3 linked regions of the Homo sapiens genome follow. The protein of the gene in region 1 purifies or fractionates together with the protein of each later gene. This does not show direct contact. Each region holds a gene or a part of one and is shown on either strand. Other genes may lie near its edges. The genes, in order: SPICE1, CEP295 and PLBD1.

Evidence for each region.
Region 2: the proteins of SPICE1 (region 1) and CEP295 purify together in Homo sapiens (affinity purification with mass spectrometry; 2 studies listed by BioGRID and IntAct, with this or other methods). This does not show direct contact.
Region 3: the proteins of SPICE1 (region 1) and PLBD1 purify together in Homo sapiens (affinity purification with mass spectrometry; 2 studies listed by BioGRID and IntAct, with this or other methods). This does not show direct contact.

Annotation. Positions count from the first base shown.
Region 1 is NC_000003.12:113,513,164-113,516,912, reverse strand, and holds the start of SPICE1 (spindle and centriole-associated protein 1), read left to right. Parts: upstream 1-1,756; 5' UTR 1,757-2,016; exon of another isoform or gene 2,017-2,255; intron 2,256-3,749.
Region 2 is NC_000011.10:93,659,631-93,663,379, forward strand, and holds the start of CEP295 (centrosomal protein of 295 kDa), read left to right. Parts: upstream 1-2,051; 5' UTR 2,052-2,144; intron 2,145-3,749. UniProt on the Homo sapiens protein: Centriole-enriched microtubule-binding protein involved in centriole biogenesis.
Region 3 is NC_000012.12:14,565,993-14,569,741, reverse strand, and holds the start of PLBD1 (phospholipase B-like 1 precursor), read left to right. Parts: upstream 1-1,858; 5' UTR 1,859-2,045; coding exon 2,046-2,160; intron 2,161-3,749. UniProt on the Homo sapiens protein: In view of the small size of the putative binding pocket, it has been proposed that it may act as an amidase or a peptidase.

The sequences.
Region 1 (3,749 bases):
GTATGAATGAAGGTATAAAACTAATATGTAGGAAAATCAATGAACAGGGACCTGTAATGAGATGTTCAAGCATCTTTAAGGTCCTACTTAACATCAGTAATCATGAATTTAAAGTCAGCATGATTGGGTGTTTTTTTTCAGATTCAGCTGCATGGGTGCAAGCACTTAGTAAGTGTAAAGTAGGGATGGCTAATATGGTCATTTTGCCAAGTGATTACAGCAATTTAGAGAGGGGCAGGGAGTTGAGGATGCAAGCAAGTGGATGATTGTTGATTATTAAATATATCTACATCAAACTTCCTCAATCAGAGTGAAAACTATTAAAGGCAGTACCTTTCCTCTAGAAGGTTTTGGGCATGTATTTGCAGACCACACATGGGTGTATTGTAACAGCAGAAAGCAAGGGGCTAGAGGAAATTGTCTTACCAGAGCAAATAAACTCTGTTTTTGAATCAAGTGCTTTGTAAAGTTCTTAACGTGGTCCACGCAGCTCTGACTGTCGTGGATCCAGCCTATCAGGGCGCCTCCCCTTCACAGCAAGTTCCCACTGTTCTCTAAACTTCAGACACACTGGACCTCTTCCTGTCCCTTGCATTTTCCACATCTTTGCACATGCAGCTCCCTCTGCAGGAATGCTTTCCCCTTCCCCACTGGCCTATTCATGTCTGAGCTTTCCTGAGTAATTCAAATATTACTATAATAATAAGCTAAGTATTTGGTTAGAGTGCTTCCTTCTTAGCACTCGTCATAATTTTAATGTTTTTGTCATTGATAACTGTCTGTTAATATGCTGTAAGTTTCCCACCTTGCCTGTTTTTAGCCCCATAGAACCTAGCTCTCCCGCACATTTGTAGGTTGTAATAAACAACTTTTTTTTTTTTTTTTGAGACAAGGTCTTGCTTTGTCGTCCAGGCTGGAGTGAAGTGGTATGACTGTGGCTCACTACAGCTTTGCCCTCCTTGGCTCAAGCGATCCTCGCACCTCAGCTTCCTGAGTAGCTGGAACTACAGGCGTGTTCCCACGCCCAGCTAATTTTTTAATTTTTCGTAGAGACGGGGTTTCGCCATCTTGCCCATGCTTGTCTCAAACTCCTGAGCTTAAGCAATCCTTCTGCTTCTGTCTCCAAAAGTGCTGGGATTCCACTACTAAAGATTTGTAAACAAATGAATAGAGATGAAAGCAAATTAAGTGATATGTGAAGTCTGGTGAGGAGAGCAACATCTTTCTTTTGGAGAATTCTCGAGGCACCGGCTAATGCTATATGCCTATTCTTTTTTTTTTTTTTTTTTTTTTGAGACGGAGTCTCGCTCTTTCGCCCAGGCCGGACTGCAGTGGCGCCATGTCGGCTCACTGCAACCTCCACCTCCCAGGTTCACGCCATTCTCCTGCCTCAGCCTCCCGAGTAGCTGGGACTACAGGCGCCCGCCACCTGGCCCGGGTAATTTTTTGTATTTTTAGTAGAGACGGGGTTTCACCGTGTTAGCCAGGATGGTCTCGATCTCCTGACCTCGTGATCCGCCTGCCTCGGCCTCCCAAAGTGCTGGGATTACAGGCGTCAGCCACCGCGCCCGGCCTGCTATATACCTATTCTTTAATAATTTGCCCTGAACCTTGCAGAGGAACCTCTCTCCCTTAGACTCAGGACCCGAGATAGGCTTTGGGAGGCGCCTGCGCACTGGGCTCGCCGGATATACGCAAGGGCGTGGGGCGGAGCTCTGGTAACCCAGGCAACAGCCCGGAAGCCGCTGGCTGGGTTAACCTGTGGCGCGCTCCGCGGTTCCGGCGCCTGAAGTTTTAGCTGCGGTGGCGGCGGCAGTCGGGACCGACTGCAAGGCAGGTTGAGATGATGGATCTGAGGCTTGCAGCTCGCAGTCCCAACGAGCCTTAGGGACCAGGGCTACCAAAAGGGTGGGGAGAACGGTGGTGGCATCTGTCTGTTGCCTGGGATCCAGGCGCCCGGTTGGGGAATCCTTACTTCAGGAAGCGCAGCCGCGGCTCTGTGTTTTGAGAGTGCAAGTACGTGTCAGGGTGCGTGTCTGGGTATGTTTGTGCGTGGCGCCAGAGCACCTCGAGTATGCGCGTGCGCACCGCTTTCGGGAGCTTTTGCACAGAGCTGGTAATTGGGGGTGCTCGATTGTAGCGTTGGGGGAGTTCACCGTGTAGCAGGAGAGAGGCAAACTATCCAGGGTGCTTTGGGACCGGGAGCGTCATTTAAATCGATGGATGTCAGAGGGGCTTCTCAGAAGGCTCCTCCTGTGAGTTTTGAGGAGTCCGTGGAAGTTAACCCAGTAGAGAAGAGAGTGAGCCTAATGAGTGTTCCAAGCAGAGGGAAAAGAATGGTTGCAACTGTGTGTGAGGCGAGAGCTTGGTTTTAGGATTTGCGGGAGATGTGAGAGAACACTGGAAAGAAAAGTCAGCCGGGCCATATGGGGGAGAGGGTCTGAATGCCAAGCTGAGTTGGATTGCTTTTGACAGTGGGGAGCCATCCGAATCTAGAGGAAGTAGGTAAAGGGTTCAGATCTATTCTCTATCCATGTATTTAGGTAGGATTGATTCAACAGTGTTTGGAAAGAGTTCTTGTTTCTCTTTGATCAGTTTTCCACACCAGTCAGAGTGGATTTACTAAGTCCAGTCATAACTATCCCTTTTAAAATTCTTCAGTGGTTTCCTATGGTCTTAGGTGTTCAGATTGCTGTGGCTCACAAGACTACAATCTGCTGTCTGCCTTTCTTCCTTTAACCTCTCACCCTCTCAGATCTTTGTTAATTGAACTGAACTTCTCAAACTCTTCGTAAATGCATTTTCCCTTGCCTGGAATATTCTTTCCCCTGCTTCTAACTTTTATTCGTATTTTAGCTCTCAGTGCAAACATTTTTGGGGGTATTACAGAGAGGAGAAGCTTTTACTTACTGCATAGAGTTAGTTAGGTACTTTCATGGCACACAGAATTTACTTCCCATGCTGCCCTTTTGTTGTAAATACTTGTTTAATTGCGGTCCTCTTAGAAACTCTTAACTCTGCAAGGGCATAGACTATTCTACTTTCTTGTTATATCTGGTGCCTCGCTTTTAGATGGTGCTTCAAAATATTAGTTACATTAATAGATGGATGATGAAGTCAGTGAGTGAAGAGTGAAAGGGAGACTAATTAGAATAATGAGAGCCTGAACAAAAATATTTTTAGTAGAGATGGAGAAGAGCGGGCAAGAGAGATTTTTAGGGAAAAAGTTAATAGATTCTGTTATCTGATTCACTAAGAGATAAGGAACAGAGGTGATGCTGAGGTTTTAAATTGGAGCAACTAGGATTGTAATTCTGTAAATTCAGCTTAATTGAACATATTTATCGAGTCAACCAGTTATATATCAGCAAGTAGAGATTTGGGGTATGATGATGAGCTGTATTTTGATATACTGTATTTGTGATATTTGGGAGATGTATATAGTAGGTAGTTAGAAATGAGCATTTGGTGTTTTTGTTTTGTTTTTGTTTGTTTATTTTAAGAGACAGAGCCTCACTTTGTCACCTAGGCTGGAGTGCAGGGGCGCCATCGTAGCTCACTGCAGCCTCCAATTCCTGGGCTCAAGCAGTCCTCCCACCTCAGCCTCCTGAGTAGCTGAAACTATAGGCACTCACTGCCACTCCTGGCTAATTAAAAAAAATTTTTTTTTTAGAGACAGGGTCTTGCTATGTTGCACAGGCTGGTCTTGAGCTTCCTGCCTCAAGCGATCCTCCAGCCTCAGCCTCCCG
Region 2 (3,749 bases), on another chromosome or scaffold:
AATAATATGCACATGTTTTATCGGGTATGGAAGAGTATCTCCGTGCCTGTATGGAGGATGCTGAAAAAATGTTTAAAATGAATACAAATATTCTTCAAGATAAATGTGACAGGAAATGGGGAGAGAGGCTGAGAAGAACCCTAATATTTGGGAAGGAAACGTGAATTCTAGTCCTGGTTCACCCTTGACTGAAATGTGCCCTTGGCCAAGTTGCTGAATCTCTCTGTAACTCAGTATCCTGATCTGTAAATCTGAGGTGGAATCACACTATTTCTTCCTGTACCTTCCTTCCTCCTACTCCATCCCTTTAAGTTTTGGTGTTCCTCGGAGTTTGGTTCTTTGCTCATTGCTCTTCTCACTCTGCAAATTCTCCCTAAGTGATCTCATCCATTCCGCTAGCGTTTGTTATTACTCATGTAACAAGGAAATCCCTTTATGCTTAGCCTAGTTCTTTCTGTGGGCTATCTACCGATGTATTCATCTGCTTACAGTACATCACTGGATGTTCTACAGGCACATGAAGTTCAATATACACAGAGCTTGGCTCATCACCCTACCCACTTAACTGCCATTTCTGATTTCTCCCTTTACAATCAAGAATCAACACTGCTACCCAAGCTAGTGGCCTATGAAATCAACTTCACTTTCCCTTTTCTCTCAATCTCACATGCAATTGTTTGTCAAGTACTGCTAATTTTGTGTCCTAAGTTTCTGAAATGCATCCCTTTGTCTAGATATCTCATAAACAGCTCAAATTCAAAATATTCAAAGCTTAACTTATTACTTCTCCCTCCTGGTTCTCTTCATGTGTGTTCCAGGAGGATGTTATCACTATCTACCCAGGTGCTAGGTATCTGGGACTTGGGCATCACCCTTGTTTTCTCCTCTTGTGCCTCCCATAACCAGGTAACCACCAATTCCTGATGTTTGGCTTCCTATTCAATCTACTCACCTCTCTCCATTCTCATTGCTATTATCTTTCACTTTCTGTAGTAGTATACGGCCTTCTGTCTTCACTCTCTCTGACCTTTTCCCCACTGTGCAGCCAGATCTGATCGTGTCAGCAACTTCCCATCCCCACCCCCCATTTTTAATCCTTTGATTCCTGATGTTTAACCCCCATGACCCAGACTGCAAAATCTAGTATAGGCATCATAATCCATCCAGAGTAACATAATGTACTCGGCACATAACAGATACTCAATAGGTATTAACCTGTGCTCACCGCCTGATTATTGGTTATTTACAGCAGATAAATCCGTGAGGTGCTCTCCGTGCGCTGTACCTCTGGAGGCACAGGGTAACATACGGCTCATTGTTGTTATGAGCTGGAGGCCTTAAATGAAAGCTATAAGACGTTAACTGCGCATAATAGTACCAATGAATTCCGTAGTCAGTACAGAAAAGGATGCATATCCCAAGATATCTTCATGATGGGGCCTTAAAACAAAAGTCACCCTCATGGCTCTGCACTTTTTTTTTTTTTTTTTAGACAGGCTTTGGCTCTGTCGCCCAGGCTGGAGTGCAGTACTGGCGGGATCTCGGCTCACTGCAACCTCCACCTCCTGGGTTCAAGCGATTCTCCTGCCTCAGCCTCCCGAGTAGCTGGGATTACAGGCGCCCACCACCACGCACGGCTAATTTTTGCTGTTGTCGTATTTTTTGTAAAGATGAGGTTTCACCATGTTTTTAAAAGGACTTGGTCTTGAACTCATAACCAAAAATACATAACCTCGAACTCTTGGGCTCAAGTGATCCTCCCGCCTTGGCCTCCCAAAGTGCTGGGATTACAGGCGCGAGCCACCGAGCGCGGCCCATACGGGAAAACGTCAAAGCCTGACAGGTGTGACAAATAATGGGCCCCTAGGCAGGCTGGGGCTGGCGCGTGCCTGTGCGCGTGCGCGGGGCGCGGGGTTTTTAACACCGCGCAGCCTTCCCGGCGGCCCCCGAGGAAGGCGGGACAGGGCCTATTCCCGCGGTTTGGTCCGGCCATTGGCGGGCGGTTTGAATGACGGAAGTGACGGCGGCTCGGCGATGGCTCTCCCGCAGGCGCAGAAACGGCTGCTGGGCAGCTGATGGGCAGGAGCTTACCAGGCTGGCTTGCTCTGAGCTGCGGTTACTGTGTCCAGGCCCCGGGTTCTCAGGTGAGTCAGGGATGCACTGGCTTCCCAGTCGCCCCGTAGGAGCATGACTCCCCGAGGCCCAAGAGCTGGGATTGTATTCCGGAGGAATGGGATCCCAGGAAGGCGCCTTGTTGCGAACGCAGGTACGGCTCGCGTTTCTCAGGCTCCGCAGGCCGTGGGCCCTGCCCGCGGTCGGGCTGGCGGCTGTAAGGAGTGTCCGGACCAGACCCGGTAACTCAGTGCGAGAGGCTTTGCGCGCTCTCCTGGGGTCGGGTCGCGCGAGCTTCCCACGCAGCCTCCCCTGTCGCGGAGCTTCCGTGTCGGGGGAGGGGCGCTTCCCCCAGATCACCCGCGGACATGGCCTGCCACCTGGTAGCTGTTAAAAGAGCCTTGCCTGGATCGTTTCATGCAAAGAGCACGCTCTCTTTTGGTGTCTGCCACCTTAATCTCACAGTTATTCAATCCTGTCACAAACTCAACTTTTAAAACAATGGTGAACTTTTGAGTCCTTAATACTTAGAGTGTATTTGAAGACTTCACGCTAAGTCACATAGACGTCAGAACAAACCTTTTGGGGTAGATATTATTATTCCCTTTATACAGTTTAAGAAAACGAAACCAAAGTGACTTCAGTGACTTGGCCAGTATCTTCCTGCTAATAAGTGGCAGTGTTGGGTCTTGAACCCAGATCTTCCAAGTTTAGTGTTAATTTTGTGATTACTATGTACCAGGAGCCATTTAATCCTCAGGACGAAATCTTGCAAGATAAGTAGTATAATCTTCAATATTGGATAGTAATAAAATGTAGAATTTAAAAATCCATATTACTAAGAATAAATAATTAATAAACAAGTAAATGGGGCAGCAGGGAAAACTTCCTTACAGCAGGATTCCGATTGATAATTGTAGAAGGAATAATGGAAATAGAAAATACTATTTGGTAAACACCACAGTAGTTGTTTCAGACAACAGTCATCAATGGATACTAACGTCAATGGGCAAAAGTATGATGAAAAGCATATTTCTGTAGCCTCTACTCTGTCTTCATGAGATATTTATAAAGGAAAAGTAGTAACTACAGAGGAGAAACCTGGTGGACATCATCTTAACCAAGTGACCAAAATTCAGCATCATTTACCTCTTGATAACAATGCACTGAAAAGGTGCCTAATCAATTCTGTGGTGTTCTTGCCAAAAATACATAACCTCAGTTTAATCACATAAGATTAGACAAATCTAAATGGAGGGACATTCAACAAAGTACTTGGCCAGTATTTTCAAAAATGACAGGGTCTTGAAAAGACAGACTGAGAAACTGTCCCAGATTAAGGGGGACATGACAACTTTGACATGAGAATGTAACTCACATATCTTAATCTCCTGCATTCTGAAATCTCCATTTGCACTGAGGCCATGCTTCCCATGGGCTGCTCCTAGCCACTGACAGTGGCAGGCCTGTTCCTGAGAATCTCCCCACGGGTTCTTGCTGAACATTTCTTATACTGCATGGCTGTCTAAGAGGGGTCTACCCATTGTTACTTCCCTCCATTCAGTGTTAGACTTACACTGAAGTCTGAGGCGCTTGTAACTTTTATCAGCTCCCTCCCATTTTCCCTCACACACGCA
Region 3 (3,749 bases), on another chromosome or scaffold:
CTTGGATCAGAAGGGTTAGTAAGGTGAAGGAGGGTGGTATAGGGCAATATGACTCAAATATTTGGGGTGGCACCACTTCCTTGAACATCCTAATGTGGTTCTCTTCCCATCATAACACAACCAAAATTTTCATTTTTGGTTCATTTTAATTTTCTAACTTGAAGGAAAATGTGCAACTTTTACAATGTCCTCGATGTCTTCATTTTAATTTTTCTTCATTTAAATTTTCTAACGAAGGAAAATGTGCAACTTTTACAATGTCCTCGATGTCTTCGTTTTAATTTTTCTTCATTTTAATTTTCTAACTTGAAGGAAAATGTGCAACTTTTACAATGTCCTCGATGTCTTCATTCATTAAATGCCATTAAACATAATTGTGACTTTAATTTTAATTAAATAAAAATGAGTTGGAGTCTCCCTGTGTGGCACAGGCTTGTCTTGAACTTTTGGGCTCCGGTGATCCTCCCACCTTGGCCTCCCAAAGTGTTGGGATTACAGGCATGAGCCATGGTGCCTGGACCACAAAATTGTGACTTGTGTTTCACAATTTGCACAGAGATTTGATGAACTTTTAGGTTCTTTATCTTTTCTAACAATTACATTTTCCCCGTTATGAAAGGTACTGCTTATTCTCTCTTCTCATCTCTCCTTGACACCTAGGTTAAGCTTAGAAGAAAGGCCAAGAGGAAGAGTGGGGTGCTGAGGTTCCCATCTGAGAGGTGGCTTGTTCCCTCCTTCCCCCTCTCCCACTGCACCTTAAACATAGCTCTAACACAGTAGAATGGCAAGTTCTGTGTACTTGTTTATCTATATGGCTTAGTTCTTTTTTAAAAAAATTATTATTGTTATTATTATTATTTTTTTTTGAGACGAATCTCGCTCTGTCGCCCAGGCTGGAGTAGAGTGGCGCGATCTCGGCTCACTGCAAGCTCCGCCTCCCGGGTTTACGCCATTCTCCTGCGTCAGCCTCCCAAGTAGCTGGACTACAGGCGCCCGCCACCGTGTCCGACTAATTTTTTGTATTTTTAGTAGAGACGGGGTTTCACCGTGTTAGCCAGGATGGCCTCGATATCCTGACCTCGTGATCTGCCCGCCTCGGCCTCCCAAAGTGCTGGGATTACAGGCGTGAGCCACGGCGCCCGGCTGGCTTAGTTCTTTTTGTCTGTGGTGAGGCATGCTCTTAGCTGTCTTTATATCACTGGTATCTGGAGTATAAGATGGGCCCAGCCAATGCTGAGTGAATGAATGAAATGCCTTTTGCCTACTTCACAATGTCACCTAGGGCACCCGGTGCCAACTTCACAATATCACCCAAGGCATAACTTTTGACTACTTCACAATGTCACTTTTAACTGACCCCACACAGAAATGGGGACTCCACAGAAACGTAGGAGTGTGTCTAGTGTCAGCCCCGTCTGAATCACTCTCCTGTGGTGGCTCCAGCCAACGAAGAGGAAGCAAAAAGGATAAAAAATCTGAGCTACAGCGCATGGATTTAGGTTAAACAGCCTGGGAATGAGGGGTACGCTAATCGCTGAGGAAAACGCACCTGTGGAGGCCTCTCCAGAAACAGCAGAGGATCCGAGCTGCGTGTAGGCAGGGCGCGCATGTCACCCTGGCCCGGGCGCCTGGTCCGCTGCTGGAGATAAATGGTCGACCCCGGAGGGAGAGGCTAGTAGGGGTGTTGATGTGAACTGATTCGCCCAAGCCTTGGGCCGCAAAACTGCGAAAGAAAGCGGCAGGCAGCCTCTGCATTTCCCAGAAGTGCAGCTGGGGAACTTTCCCAGACCGGCCCAGGGGTTGCTAGAGGGTCAGACGTAAAGGATCCGCCTTTCCTAGGCGGGGTGGGCCCCAGGCCACCACGTGAAGCGTCCTCGCCCCTCAGAGCCCGGAGCAGGCCGGGCTCAAGAAAGAGGAAAGTTGAGGACGCCCCACCTCGGAGAGGCGGCGCCCCTGAGTAGGCCAGGAGCCTCTCTTGCAACTTCTGCCACCGCGGGCCACCGCGGCCGCCTGATCCCGCAGAGGAAGGTCGCGGCCGTGGAGCGATGACCCGCGGCGGTCCGGGCGGGCGCCCGGGGCTGCCACAGCCGCCACCGCTTCTGCTGCTGCTGCTGCTGCTGCCGCTGTTGTTAGTCACCGCGGAGCCGCCGAAACCTGCAGGTGAGCAGAGCGCGCCCTGGGCGGGGGGCGCCCGGGGAGGCTCCTAGGAGCCTGTTAGCGCCCGTGCCCCGCGTCCGGCCGAGTTGACGTCCAGCGGGCGTCTGGTTCCTGGGTGAACTCAGAGAAACGCGCCTCCGGCCGGCGGTCTCGCTCCAGCCCTGCGGCTGCGCAGCGAGGGCACTTGAGAAGGGCATGGCGAGTGCGTCTGCCAACTTTACAAGTTTTGGCCCGAATTCTTGGCCAACAAATCGGTTCGCTCCTGCGCCGATTCTTGGCCCACAGAGCCTGGGCTGGTCTTAAAAACTCCAGCCAATGGGCATCTAAATATATTTATCCAGATTGTAGGGAGGTATGGTTCCGGCTTGCCATTTGTTTTGTGTTTTAAAAATTTACATTGACTTTGGCTTAAAATCACGATTGCACGATTGTCAGTTTGATACGTGCCTGGCAGTGGGCTTAAGGGCCTTTTGGTTTTGTTGTTGTTGTTGAGACAGAGTCGCTCTCTGTGGGCGACGCTGGAGTGCAATGGTGTGATCTCGGCTCACTGCAACTTCCGCCTCCCGGGTTCAAGCGATTCTCCTCCCTCAGCTTCCCAAGTAGCTGGGATTACAGGCGTCAGCCACCATGCCCAGCTAATTTGTGCATTATTAGTAGAGACGAGGTTTCACCATGTTGGACAGGCTGGTCTCGAACGCCTGACTCGGGCGATCCGCCTGCCTCGGCCTCCCAAAGTGCTGGGATTACAGGCATGAGCCACCGCGCCCGGCAGTTTTTTTTTTTTTTTTTTAATATATAATCCTAAATAGGATTATATTCCCCATTCTGCAGATGAGAAAAGTGAGATTGATCAGAAGTAATTCGCATAAAGATAACACAGCAAATAAGACAGAGTTAGGGGATGCCAGAGGGCATTTTCTTAACTACTTCCCTCTTGGAAAAACAGGTTTTATCTCTACAGGTATTCATGCAAATCTACATCCTTTGCCAAAATTAAATTAAATTAAATTAAAAAGCCTTGGATTTATGATTTCCGTTCCTAAGGAGGTGAAGATTATGAACTGTAACTAAGGGACTTGAAAGAATTCTAAAGTAATAATAAGAGAATTAATTTTGTCTTATTTCATAATCCCCTTTTCTGTGCTGACCTTGTACAAGAGTAGGGTGGGGCTTGGGGGAGGATGCCCCTTCCTAAATATGTGTACTGATTCTTATTACACTACCTTCCATCATCAAGAGCCTTCGTTTTTGAGACTTGCTTAGTTATCACTCTTCAATCTTAAATCTTTCCAGTCTGTGGGATCAGATGTACCCACAGGCTCCTGACTCGTGATTTTCTGTGTTCTTTGCCTAAACTATGGAGGTGGCCTTGGTGTCTACTTCTAGTCTAGGGAGACAGCTCATTCAGAGGTACCTGGGGGAGGCTGGGGAGGGTCCCAAAAGTGGAGGTAGCTTTTGTGTTTGGAATGCTGGCTAAAATCTTTATTCCTTTTCTGTTTTTTTGGACGAGTGAGATTAAGTGTTTTTGTAGGTGGAGGGGGCAGCCTGAGGAGTGAGACAGGCGTTGTTTTTCTGAAGATGGAGCACTATTT